Homo sapiens: one gene and its partners. The protein of the gene in region 3 purifies or fractionates together with the protein of the main gene of each other region. This does not show direct contact. Each region holds a gene or a part of one and is shown on either strand. Other genes may lie near its edges. The genes, in order: BRI3, KCNQ1 and BACE1.

Evidence for each region.
Region 1: the proteins of BACE1 (region 3) and BRI3 purify together in Homo sapiens (affinity purification with western blotting, with the first as the bait; one study listed by BioGRID). This does not show direct contact.
Region 2: the proteins of BACE1 (region 3) and KCNQ1 purify together in Homo sapiens (affinity purification with western blotting; one study listed by BioGRID). This does not show direct contact.

What each region holds. Positions count from the first base shown.
Region 1 is NC_000007.14:98,288,088-98,291,734, forward strand, and holds the end of BRI3 (membrane protein BRI3), read left to right. Parts: intron 1-3,023; coding exon 3,024-3,156; coding exon of another isoform or gene 3,157-3,203; 3' UTR 3,204-3,458; downstream 3,459-3,647. UniProt on the Homo sapiens protein: Participates in tumor necrosis factor-alpha (TNF)-induced cell death. May be a target of Wnt/beta-catenin signaling in the liver.
Region 2 is NC_000011.10:2,566,861-2,570,507, reverse strand, and holds part of KCNQ1 (potassium voltage-gated channel subfamily KQT member 1), read right to left. Parts: intron 1-3,647. UniProt on the Homo sapiens protein: Pore-forming subunit of the voltage-gated potassium (Kv) channel involved in the regulation of cardiomyocyte excitability and important in normal development and functions of myocardium, inner ear, stomach and colon.
Region 3 is NC_000011.10:117,292,137-117,295,783, reverse strand, and holds part of BACE1 (beta-secretase 1 isoform A preproprotein), read left to right. Parts: intron 1-210; exon of another isoform or gene 211-236; coding exon of another isoform or gene 237-286; intron 287-436; coding exon 437-653; intron 654-1,775; coding exon 1,776-1,913; intron 1,914-2,595; coding exon 2,596-2,730; intron 2,731-3,613; exon of another isoform or gene 3,614-3,647. UniProt on the Homo sapiens protein: Responsible for the proteolytic processing of the amyloid precursor protein (APP).

The DNA of each region.
Region 1 (3,647 bases), on a different chromosome or scaffold from region 3:
TCACCCTCCCTGTCTGCTTTTTCATGGGACATTTTCTAACCAGAATATACAGCCAGTGTGTTTCCTGGGATTTGACCGCAGATGCCAGGAAGAAAAGGGAAGAGGAAGCTCCCCTGAGAGGCCTGAGGCCACTGGCTCCCTCCAGCTCCCCCGGAACCTGTCATGGCCATCTGTGGGGACACAGCTGGTGCTTGGCCTTCCCGAGGCTCCCCCACCTCGACTGTGTGGTCTTGGGAGCTGTGGCACCTGGGGGAGAAGGTCCTGGAGCCAGGCAGGGCGTGCTGCAGTCGGCAGGGCTGGGCGGAGGTGTCCTGCCCAGTCTGGACTGGCAGGGGCAGCCCTGGGCAAGGCTGAACAAGTGTGGTGGCCTGACGACCTTCTGGGGCTTAAATAGGGGACACATTTGTAAAAGCCCACACAGGAAGTAGAAACTTTCCTGGCAGACTCTGGTCTTCTGCTTGGCTTTGCCTTGGAGCTTCATGGTGTGCCCTGCAGCCCAGCTCAGCCCCTCCACACAGACAGGTGGCGTTGTGTGAGTTTGGGAAACACTGGGTATAAGAGTGCTGCAGGACTTCTCAGAGCCTTTTGAGAACGAATGGACATAGGGACTGTAGGAGAAAAGTTTCCCAAAATCGGCTGAACAATCCCCCTTTTCCAAATGCATACCACTGTGTCTGGCTAATTTTAAATTTTTGTAGGGAGGGGTCTTTGTTGCCCAGGCTGGTTTTGAACTGCTGGCTTTAAGCGATCCGCCTCAGCTTCCCAAAGTGCTGCAGTTGCAGGCGTGAGCCACGGTGTCCTACTCCACTGGAGATTGCTGAAGGGACCTCCCTGAGTAGGCTAGAGGGAGGCAGGTGGGCATGAAGTTTTTTTCTTTTTTCTTTTTTTTTGAGACGGAGTTTTGCTCTTGTTGCCCAGGCTAGAGTGCAGTGGCACGATCTCAGCTCACTGCAACCTCTGCCTCCCAGGTTCAAGCAATTCTGTTTCAGCTTCCCGAGTAGCTGGGATTACAGGTACCCACCACTACGCCCAGCTAATTTCTGTATTTTTAGTAGAAACGCGGTTTCACCATGTTGACCAGGCTGGTCTCGAACTCCTGACCTCAGGTCATCCACCCACCTCGGCCTCCCAAAGTGCTGGGATGACAAGCATGAGCCACTGCACTTTGCAACTTTTTCTTTCAGCAGTGGAAAGCCCGACTTCAGAATATTCTGGTTTATTTTTCCATAATCCCCGGAGAAGCAGGGAACAGGTTCTGTGGGTGGGGTTTGGGCTCCCCAGCCTGCTTTGCCCAGCAGGGGTGGGGGCAGTGGCCCTCATGAGTCCAGACCCCCAGGAAGCAGCTGGAAACATCCAGGGGGCTGGGATGGGAGTAGGGTCCCCCAGATGGCCAAGTTTTCTCCCCTTAGCAAGGCACAGGTAGTCATGCTTCCCTGTCGCAGGCAGGCGGCTGCACTGCCTTGCTGTAGGCTCCCCTTCCCCCCTAAGCACCAGGTCCCATCATCTATCAGACAGCCCCACCCTGTTGTGTTTTTCTGTCCACTCACTCCAGCACTGGCTGGATGGGGGGTTTGGGCCCCCAGGAGGCCCAGAAGGAGCCCGTTGGGGTCTGCCTGTCTGGTGGGAGCAAAGCTTTTCTCATTTGGGCTGAGCTGGCTAGTGTGGTTAATTTCAGCTGTGTCCAGAACTTTCCAGAAATAGCCTAAGGAGCTGAGCTGAGCACTAGGCTTCTGGCTTCCTACTTTTAGGGCCTCTGAAACTGACAGTTGGGTTCGATGATGATTTCAGGTCACTGAACCTAGGCTCACTGGCGCAGGATTTGAGGGATGGCCTGCAGGTGTCTTTAGTCTGTTACAAACATTGAACTTTGTTGAAGAGGCGGCTTTGAGATCACATTTCTCAAAATAAGTGGCCTTCAGACATTGTGTGAACATGGCCGACTGTAGTCTCCCATTAACCCACCCCCGCTACCAAAGGAACGGAAATCGAATAAAAGCCCAAACCTGACTGGATCACTAAGCTGCTAGTTGCTCCTTTTCTAAGAGCAGATGTATGTGGCTTGTGGCACCAAAATGATCATGCCTCTCAAGGTTGTTTTTTTTTTTTTTTTTTTTTTTTTGAGACGGAGTCTCGCTCTGTCGCCCAGGCCGGACTGTGGACTGCAGTGGCACAATCTCGGCTCACTGCAAGCTCCGCTTCCTGGGTTCACGCCATTCTCCTGCCTCAGCCTCCTGAGTAGCTGGGACTACAGGCGCCCGCCACCGCGCCCGGCTAATTTTTTGTATTTTTAGTAGAGACGGGGTTTCACCTTGTTAGCCAGGATGGTCTCGATCTCCTGACCTCATGATCCACCCGCCTCGGCCTCCCAAAGTGCTGGGATTACAGGCGTGAGCCACCGCGCCCGGCCATCTCTCAAGGTTTTACTTTTTGAGATGGAGTCTCGCTCTGTCGCCCAGCCTGGAGTGTAGTGGCTTAATCTCGGCTCACTGCAACCTCTGCCTCCTGGATTCAAGCGATTCTCCTGCCTCAGCCTCCCAAGTAGCCGGGACTACAGGCATGTGCCACCACGCCTGGCAGATTTTTGTATTGTTAGTAGAGACAGGGTTTCACCGTGTTGGCCAGGCTGGTCTTGAACTCCTGAACTCAGGTGATCCACCCGCCTCCGCCTCCCACAGTGCTGGGATTACAGGCGTGAGCCACCACACACCCTGCCTTGCCTTTCAAGGTTAACTGATGAGTCCTTTCAACTGTTTTATTCTTCCCGTTTTCTTTGAATGTTACATGTAGTGATTAAATAACTATGGCCATTCCATGAACGGGTACGTGCAGCTGGTTCTTGGGGCTCTCCAGGCCAGTGGGCTGTAGCTGGGTGGTGGGGTGGGGGGCTGTTTTCTGTCACTCGCCAGAGGTCCCCATGTGACTCATGGCCACTGGTTGGTTATTGAATGCAAGGGTGGCAGGGGTGAGGGTTCTGGCTGCCCGGGTCCTTACGGTGCCACCCTCTCTGCCCGTCTCTGCTGCAGGGTTGGGGTGCTGGAGGACTGCTTCACCTTCCTGGGCATCTTCCTGGCCATCATCCTCTTCCCCTTTGGGTTCATTTGCTGTTTTGCCTTGAGGAAGCGACGATGCCCCAACTGTGGAGCCACCTTCGCTTAAAGGGAACACCAGGCCCGGCTTTCCTACACCCAGCTCTCTTTTTCTAATGTAAATGTTGTGTACAATAATTTTATTTGATTAAGCTTCAGGACTGTTTTGTAAAGCGAGGTGGGACCGATGTGGCACACGCCAGCTGCGGTTTCCCGGAGCGTGGAGAGGCAGTGCTGCTGCTCCCGCCCGAGGCTCATGACAACTCAATAAAGCACTGCTTTTATTTTTTGCAGTCTTCAATTTGAGAAAGGTGAGAAATAATGTTTTCAATAAATGAGATTCATACCATTGTTGACCTGGTGCTGCTTACTCGGTGCTTTCAGAGACCCAGGAAAGACTGGAACGACACCCCCATCGCTCCCCCGGCCAGTCCTGACCACAGTTGTATTCAGCAGGCGCTTACAGCTCAAGAAAATGTTTTCAAGTTCTGCTTTATTATTAAAGTTGTAATCCCTTGATATTTACAGAGCAGGCACCTCGGTGCCAAGGACCAGGCCATG
Region 2 (3,647 bases), about 110 Mb from region 3:
CAGGCCCGGGTCCTGGCCTGCTGCGGATGGTGATGCCTGCGCACAGAGGCCCTGGAAGGCTGAGCAGCTTCAGCTCATGTCCATAGGCAGTGGAGCCCAGGTGAGGCTGCAGCTCTCAGGCCAGGCCCACCCAGGCCAGAGGAGGCCCCACACCAGGAACCCCAGCCTTGGCCAGAGGGGGCCCCACACCAGGAACCCCAGCTTGGGCCAGAGGGCGTCCGACGCCAGGAACCCCAGCTTGGGTCAGAGGGGGCCCCACACCAGGAACTCCAGCTTGGGCCAGAGGGCGTCCGACGCCAGGAACCCCAGCTTGGGTCAGAGGGGGCCCCACACCAGGAACCCCAGCTTGGGCCAGAGGGCGTCCCACGCCAGGAACCCTAGCCTGGGTCAGAGGGGGTCCCACGCCAGGAACCCCGGGTGCCCTCCGTGATAAGCACTTTCCCACCAGATCCAGCCCCGGAAAGCCTCACAGCTGGCCTTTGAGCCTGGTGTACCTGCGGTAGGGGCAGCCTCTGGATCACTTTGCCCTTACAGGGAGTCACCTGGCCCCTCCACACCCCAACACCTCCTCAACTCCACCGACACCAGAGGGCGGAGGTTCCTGGAGGAGTGGGAAGAAGACCCTCGGAGCTGGATCCCACCCCCTAGGCACAGAAGTGGAAAGCTGGGCCTCAGTTTCCTCAGCTGTATAGTGTGGATGCAGCAGGGCCAGGCTCAGTGGGCTTGGTGGGGACTTATTGCCAAAATGCAGCTTTCATGTGAAGTGCAGCCCATTGTGACACTTAAAGTGCAGCGGCCACCTGCAGGCTGGAGCCCAGCGCCCAGGCAGCCGGGGTGTACGGGAGGCCCTTGGGGAAGGTGTGTGGGGCTGGAAGATGAAACCAGCCCCCACGTGTGAGAGGCGCTAGCCACACAAAGCCACAAAGCCACAGGCATACGGCGTCTCAGGCCCACTTCCGGCGGACTCCTGCCTGTCCTCCCTCAGAAGCCGGGCCCTGGAGGGGACTTCTGCTCCCACTGGGTGACAGTGGCTGGCCTTGCTCCCATGCCACGCCCCCACCAGGGAGTCCACTATGAGCAGTCAGCTGGACACTGCCATCGCTGGCTCCCAAATGTTATTAATTAGGATGGAATGATACTTACACCATCCGGCATGTGTTTGGGACAAGCCCAATGGATAAGGGGAGACACGCTGGGAGCTTAGTTGCTTTCCTTTTGCAAAAATGTTTTTGGCTCATGACGTCAAATCCTTCAGGGGTGTGTGGGTGTGTGCGGACAGGTGCATACTGGAGATGGCAGGGGTGTAAGGTAAAGAAAGGGTGTGGGCCAGGTGCGGGGGCTCACGCCTGTAATCCCAGCACTCTGGGAGGCCGAGGCAGGCAGATCACGAGTTCAGGAGTTCAAGACCAGCCTGATCAACATGGTGAAACCCTGTCTCCACTAAAAATACAAAAATTAGCCTGGCATGGTGGCGCACGCCCTGTAATCCCAGCTACTCAGGAGGCTGAGGCAGGAGAATCGCTTGAACTCGAGAGGCAGAGCTTGCAGTGAGCCGAGATCACACCATTGTACTCCAGCCTGGGTGACAGAGTGAGACTCCATCTCAAAAAACAAAAAACGAAAAACAAAAATCAAAAAACAAAAACAAAAGGTGTGGACACCTGCAGGCTCTGTGGCCTCATGGGGGGGGTGTGGGTCCCACCTCTGTCCTCAGCTCCTGGGGACCAGGGCTCTAGGCTGAGGTCCGGCTGAGCTCCTTAGAGAAGAGGCTACCTTGGTCTTATCCACCCCCATTTCCCAGGCCCCAGAACAGGACCTGCTCCAGTCAGTGCTCAACATGGACATGCTGAATGAACGAATGAAGGAACAAATAAATGACTATTCCAATGAGCCGGCCTAGGGCTCTCTGGTAGCAGGAGCTCTGTCTCGTCGGTCTTTGCTTCTGAGAAACTGCCCGTTAGGGAGACCGGGCCTGGACACCATAACACCCGCCTTTGTTTGGTCATCGTGAAAAAGGCCACGGAAACACAGAGCTCCAAGTCCCCGGAGCTGAGACAGGGTGCCCATGACGGCACAGAGGCCGGCTCACCCGACTATTGGTGGCCTTGATGGGGAGGCATAGCGGCTCCCAGCCCAGCTCTGCTGACCCATCCACCACCCAGCAGACTGGCCCTTAGCAGGGTTTTTCTTGTTTTGATGCACTTTATTTATTTATTTATTTATTTATTTATTTATGAGACAGAGTCTCGCTCTGTCACCCAGGCTGGAGTGCAGTGGCGTGATCTCGGCTCACTGCAACCTCTGCCTCCCAGGTTCAAGCAATTCTCCTGCCTCAGCCTCCTGAGTAGCTGGGACTACAGGCGCATGCCACCACGCCTGGCTAATTTTTTTGTATTTTTTTAGTAGAGATGGGGTTTTGCCATGTTGGCCAGGCTGGTCTGGAACTCCTGACCTTAGGTGATCTGCCTGCTTCGGCCTCCCAAAGTGCTGGGATTATAAGCGTGAGCCACCGCGCCTGACCTTGTTTTGATGCACTTTTAAAATTACTTAAATACCTTCTCCAGGCATGTCCTAGGCAGGTCTGAAATGATAGGTGTGTCTTATGTTATACCCTGAAATAGATAAGTAACTATTAAGGATTGCTGTGGATAGCTGCGTGTCTTTTTAAAGTTATTTTGACCTAACACTCAGGGAACCTGTTTAGGGGCTGGCCTTCGAAGATGGCAGGACTCCTGCCTGTGGGACAAGGTGGTAGGAATGATTAAAAACAACACTGATCCCCAAATCCAGCTGGATGTGGGAAGGCAGTGCAAGGCTGCATGGCTGGGGAGGCCCCGCTTGTCAGGTTAATTAGGCTGGTGCTGCTAGCAGGCCAGGAAAGAGCCAAGGAAAAGTCCCCTCACCATCTCTAGGCTGGAAACAGCAAGATGGAATGTTTGCTCAGAGATAAAACTATCTCCACCACCATCAGCCTCAAACGCTCTCCTGGGCTGTGTGGGACAACACCCAGGGCCAAGGCCACAGCAAGACCCCAGGGAGCTCACACTCAGCTGGGGACAGGGAGGAGGGCTGGTCCCCCACGCCATGCCATGGCCCACCCCTGATTCACGGGACCACATCCCCAGTCTAAAGCAGGCTCACAGAATGGCAGGCCTGCCTCCCCCTGGTTCCAGCAGTCCAGACCCCAGGTGGGTGATGCCCCAGCCACCCTCCTAACCCTGGGTTCATCTGTATTTGCAGACTTGGTCCTAAGTTCCAAAGGTGAACTAAAGGGGCCTCAAGCTCCTCCCCAGAACCTGCACACATTTGGTACTTCTCCCTTGCCCACCTTGCTCAAGCAGCTGCCATAGCTCCTGCTGTCCACACTGAGGGTGACAGTCTAGGGCTGTCCCTGAGGCCTCCTTCCCAGGGGCTCACCGCCCAGTCTCCCCCAGAGCCTCCCGTGGGCCCCAGGTGCCCCCCATTCCCTGGGGCACCCCTGCCTCCTCAGGACCCTGTGTCAGGAGTGCTCTCTCCCTCCCCCACTCCACCCCCTAGGTTACCCCACCCTTCTCAGGCCAGCTCAGCACCCCCATCACCCCCAATCCCTCTGAGAGCCCCATCCACTACAGGTACAGAACCGGGGTACTTCCTGACTCCCCCACTGA
Region 3 (3,647 bases):
CCTGGCACTTTCTCTACCACTCGGATGGTACCACTAGGTTCCAAGGCAGTAAGAGAGTCAATGGTTCCTTTTCTCGGGGAGCTTGACGGAGCCAGAGGGCGGAAGAGATGCCCACTAGCTGTCCCTGCAGCAGCAGCAGCAGCAGGCACAATGCACAAAGCCCAGGCTTGTTCTTCACAGGGCCTGAGCTCAAGATCTAGGAATATGAGCAATAGATAGGAGAGCAAGCCTCACCAATGGTTCCCTTCATCTATCTGCAAGCCCACTTTACACTCTGTTCTGGGTGGTGAGTCTAGGGATGTTTTGCTGAGCAGCCTGAAAGCAGACTCTAGGATTCCCCTGAGATGAGATAAGGTGGTGTTTGGGAGTAAGTTTAACTTAGATCCTTATACCAGTTGTGGTTATGCATCCACAGATCTCTGCCTTCTTTCCACAGGTCCAGCACATACCGGGACCTCCGGAAGGGTGTGTATGTGCCCTACACCCAGGGCAAGTGGGAAGGGGAGCTGGGCACCGACCTGGTAAGCATCCCCCATGGCCCCAACGTCACTGTGCGTGCCAACATTGCTGCCATCACTGAATCAGACAAGTTCTTCATCAACGGCTCCAACTGGGAAGGCATCCTGGGGCTGGCCTATGCTGAGATTGCCAGGGTGAGAGGAACAGGGCTTGGCCCTACACACTCTATGCACACTGCACTATACAGAGAAGGAATTAGGAGAGAGAAGGGGAATTAGCAGAAGGAGGGCAACAATCAGTTTAAAGGATTATTTAACAGGGGTATAGGGTGGCAGTCTAAATTTTAGCCCTATAGAGGGCAGAACCATAGTGACAGAAGCTGTGATAGGTACAAGAATAGGCTGTGCTTTCTATGTACTCTTAAGATCTTTTTTTTTTTGAGACGGAGTTTCACTCTTGTTGCCCAAGCTGGAGTGCAATGGTGCAATCTTGGCTCACTGCAACCTCCACCTCCTCGGTTCAAGCGATTTTCCTGCCTCAGCCTCCCGAGTAGCTGGGATTATAGGCGCCCACCATGACGCCCGGCTAATTTTTTCTATTTTTAGTAGAAATGGGGTTTCATCATGTTAGCCAGGCTGGTCTCGAACTCCTGACCGCAGGTGATCCGCTCACCTCGGCCTTCCTAAGTGCTGGGATTACAGGCATGAACCACCGCGACCAGCCACTCTAAGATCTTTAATAAAGGCCCCCATAAATTTGAAGCAGGTTAGGCATAGGGGGATCAAAGATATATGAACCTGGCCAGGCGTGGTGGCTCACACCTGTAATCCCAGCACTTTGGGAGGCCAAGGCGAGCGGATGACCTGAGGTCAGAAGTTCAAGACCAGCCTGACCAACATGGTGAAACCCCATCTACCCCATCTCTACTGAAAACACAGAAATTAGCCGGGCATGTTGGCGCATGCCTATAATCCCAGCTACTCAGGAGGCTGAGGCACGAGAATCACTTGAACCCAGGAGGTGAAGGTTGCAGTGAGCCGAGATCGTAACATTGCACTCCAGCTTGGGCAACAAGAGCAAAACTCTGTCTCAAAAAAAAAAAAAAGATCTATGAATCTGTGAACCTATCAATACTGTCCTGTTTGCATTGCCAGGGCTCCTGCTAACCCTTCCTCTGCCAAATCTCAGTGCCTTAAGATGGTCTTTCCCAAGGAGCATCCCCCAAGCCTTCAAATTTGCCTTCCAGTTTAGACAGGAAGCTGGCCTCTGCCTTTAGGGCCGTATGAGGACTCACTCCTTGTCTCTTTCTGCCAAAGCCTGACGACTCCCTGGAGCCTTTCTTTGACTCTCTGGTAAAGCAGACCCACGTTCCCAACCTCTTCTCCCTGCAGCTTTGTGGTGCTGGCTTCCCCCTCAACCAGTCTGAAGTGCTGGCCTCTGTCGGAGGGAGCATGGTGAGTAGGTCCTCAGAGAGGGGAGGTCCTGGCATTGAGGGAGAGATGGGTGCCATCCTCTCCCCTTCCTGAAAGCTACACCACAGTTTTGGCTCCGATACTTAGAATCAGGAGGAACCTCTTTATATTCCCTACCCTTACTTTATTTTTCCATTCTTTTCTTTTTTGCGTTATTCCAGAAAGGAATCAAGGCACCTATGGTAAACTTGGAAAGGAAGGCAATTAGGAAAATTTCAAAGGAAATGAAAATAAGACCTGTTGAATTAAAATTATTCAGTTTGATGGTCAGAAGGCAGAGATATAAGAAGTTTGTCTATTTATTAATTAATTAGAACAATGGTGAATGGTTCTCCAATAAGCAGAGAAAATAAAACTTATAATATAAACAAATAACCATTCATTCAACATTTATTGTGGCAGTTTAGATTTAAATAACTTTATATCAAGGGCTGTATGATTCTGAAACAAATAATTAAAAATCCCGGAAAGTCTTTTCTCCTGAACACATTTAAGAAACTAGAAATCACTTTGGGTATGATTTGTTTAGAAGCAGGAAGATGAAAAGGGTAGCCTGTAGAAGACCTTGCCACCCCAAGAAATCACTGATCTTATTGCTTGGTCCTTGGGGGACTCACTCTCCTTCTGTGCCAGGACACGGGTACCTGCCTCTTTTTTTCCCTAGATCATTGGAGGTATCGACCACTCGCTGTACACAGGCAGTCTCTGGTATACACCCATCCGGCGGGAGTGGTATTATGAGGTGATCATTGTGCGGGTGGAGATCAATGGACAGGATCTGAAAATGGACTGCAAGGAGGTAAGAAAACCAAGGGAGAGCCTGGGAACATAAGGGGGTAGGCAGTACAATGTGAAGGAAGACTCTGGTTATCATGTTGGGAGGATGAGGCAGAGGTAATAGGACCTGCAGAAAGGGTTGGAAGTTGAGCCTAGAACAGTCAGGGGCTTAATGGTCACACAGCAGGATCTGCGGTTTGGGGCCTAGGGACTGGTAGTGAAAAAAAAAACATGGAACTAGTTCTGATGTCTGGACTCTAGTCACTGCCTTGCTTCGTAGCCTTGGGCAAGTCTTTTGTGAGACAGGGTGATAGAATGAAGAGTCTTGTCTTTGGAGTCAGGAAGACCCAGATCTGAATCTAGCTCTGATTTGTACTAGCTATGTACCCTTAGGCCAGTTACTATTCTGTGTCTCAGTTTCCTTATCTGCAAAACAGGTAAAAACAACTTTCTCAGAATATCAGAGATAATGTGTAAAGTGTTTATCTCTGTGGTTGGCAGTACTCAATAAAAGGTAACTAAATCATTTATGTCTTCCTTCCCTAGATTCTTATGTATGTTAAATTAGAATAGATATAAATGTACTAAGAAAAGTTAAAAGCGGCCGGGCGTGGCTGTAATCCCAGCACTCTGGGAGGCCAAGGCGGGGGCAGATCATTTGAGGTCAGAAATTCGAGACCAGCCTGGTCAACATGGTGAAACCCCATCTCTACTAAAAATAGCCAGGCGTGGTGGCAGGCACCTGTAGTCCCAGCTACTTGGGAGGCTGAGGCAAAAGAATGGTTTGAATCCAGGAGGCAGAGGTTAGAGTGAGCCGAGATCACGCCACTGTACTCCAGCCTGGGTGACAGAGCTAATACTCCATCTCAAAAAAAAAAAAAAAAAAAAAAAAAAGAAAAGAAAAGTTAAAAGCACTAAACAAGGTATTTTTATTTTCAA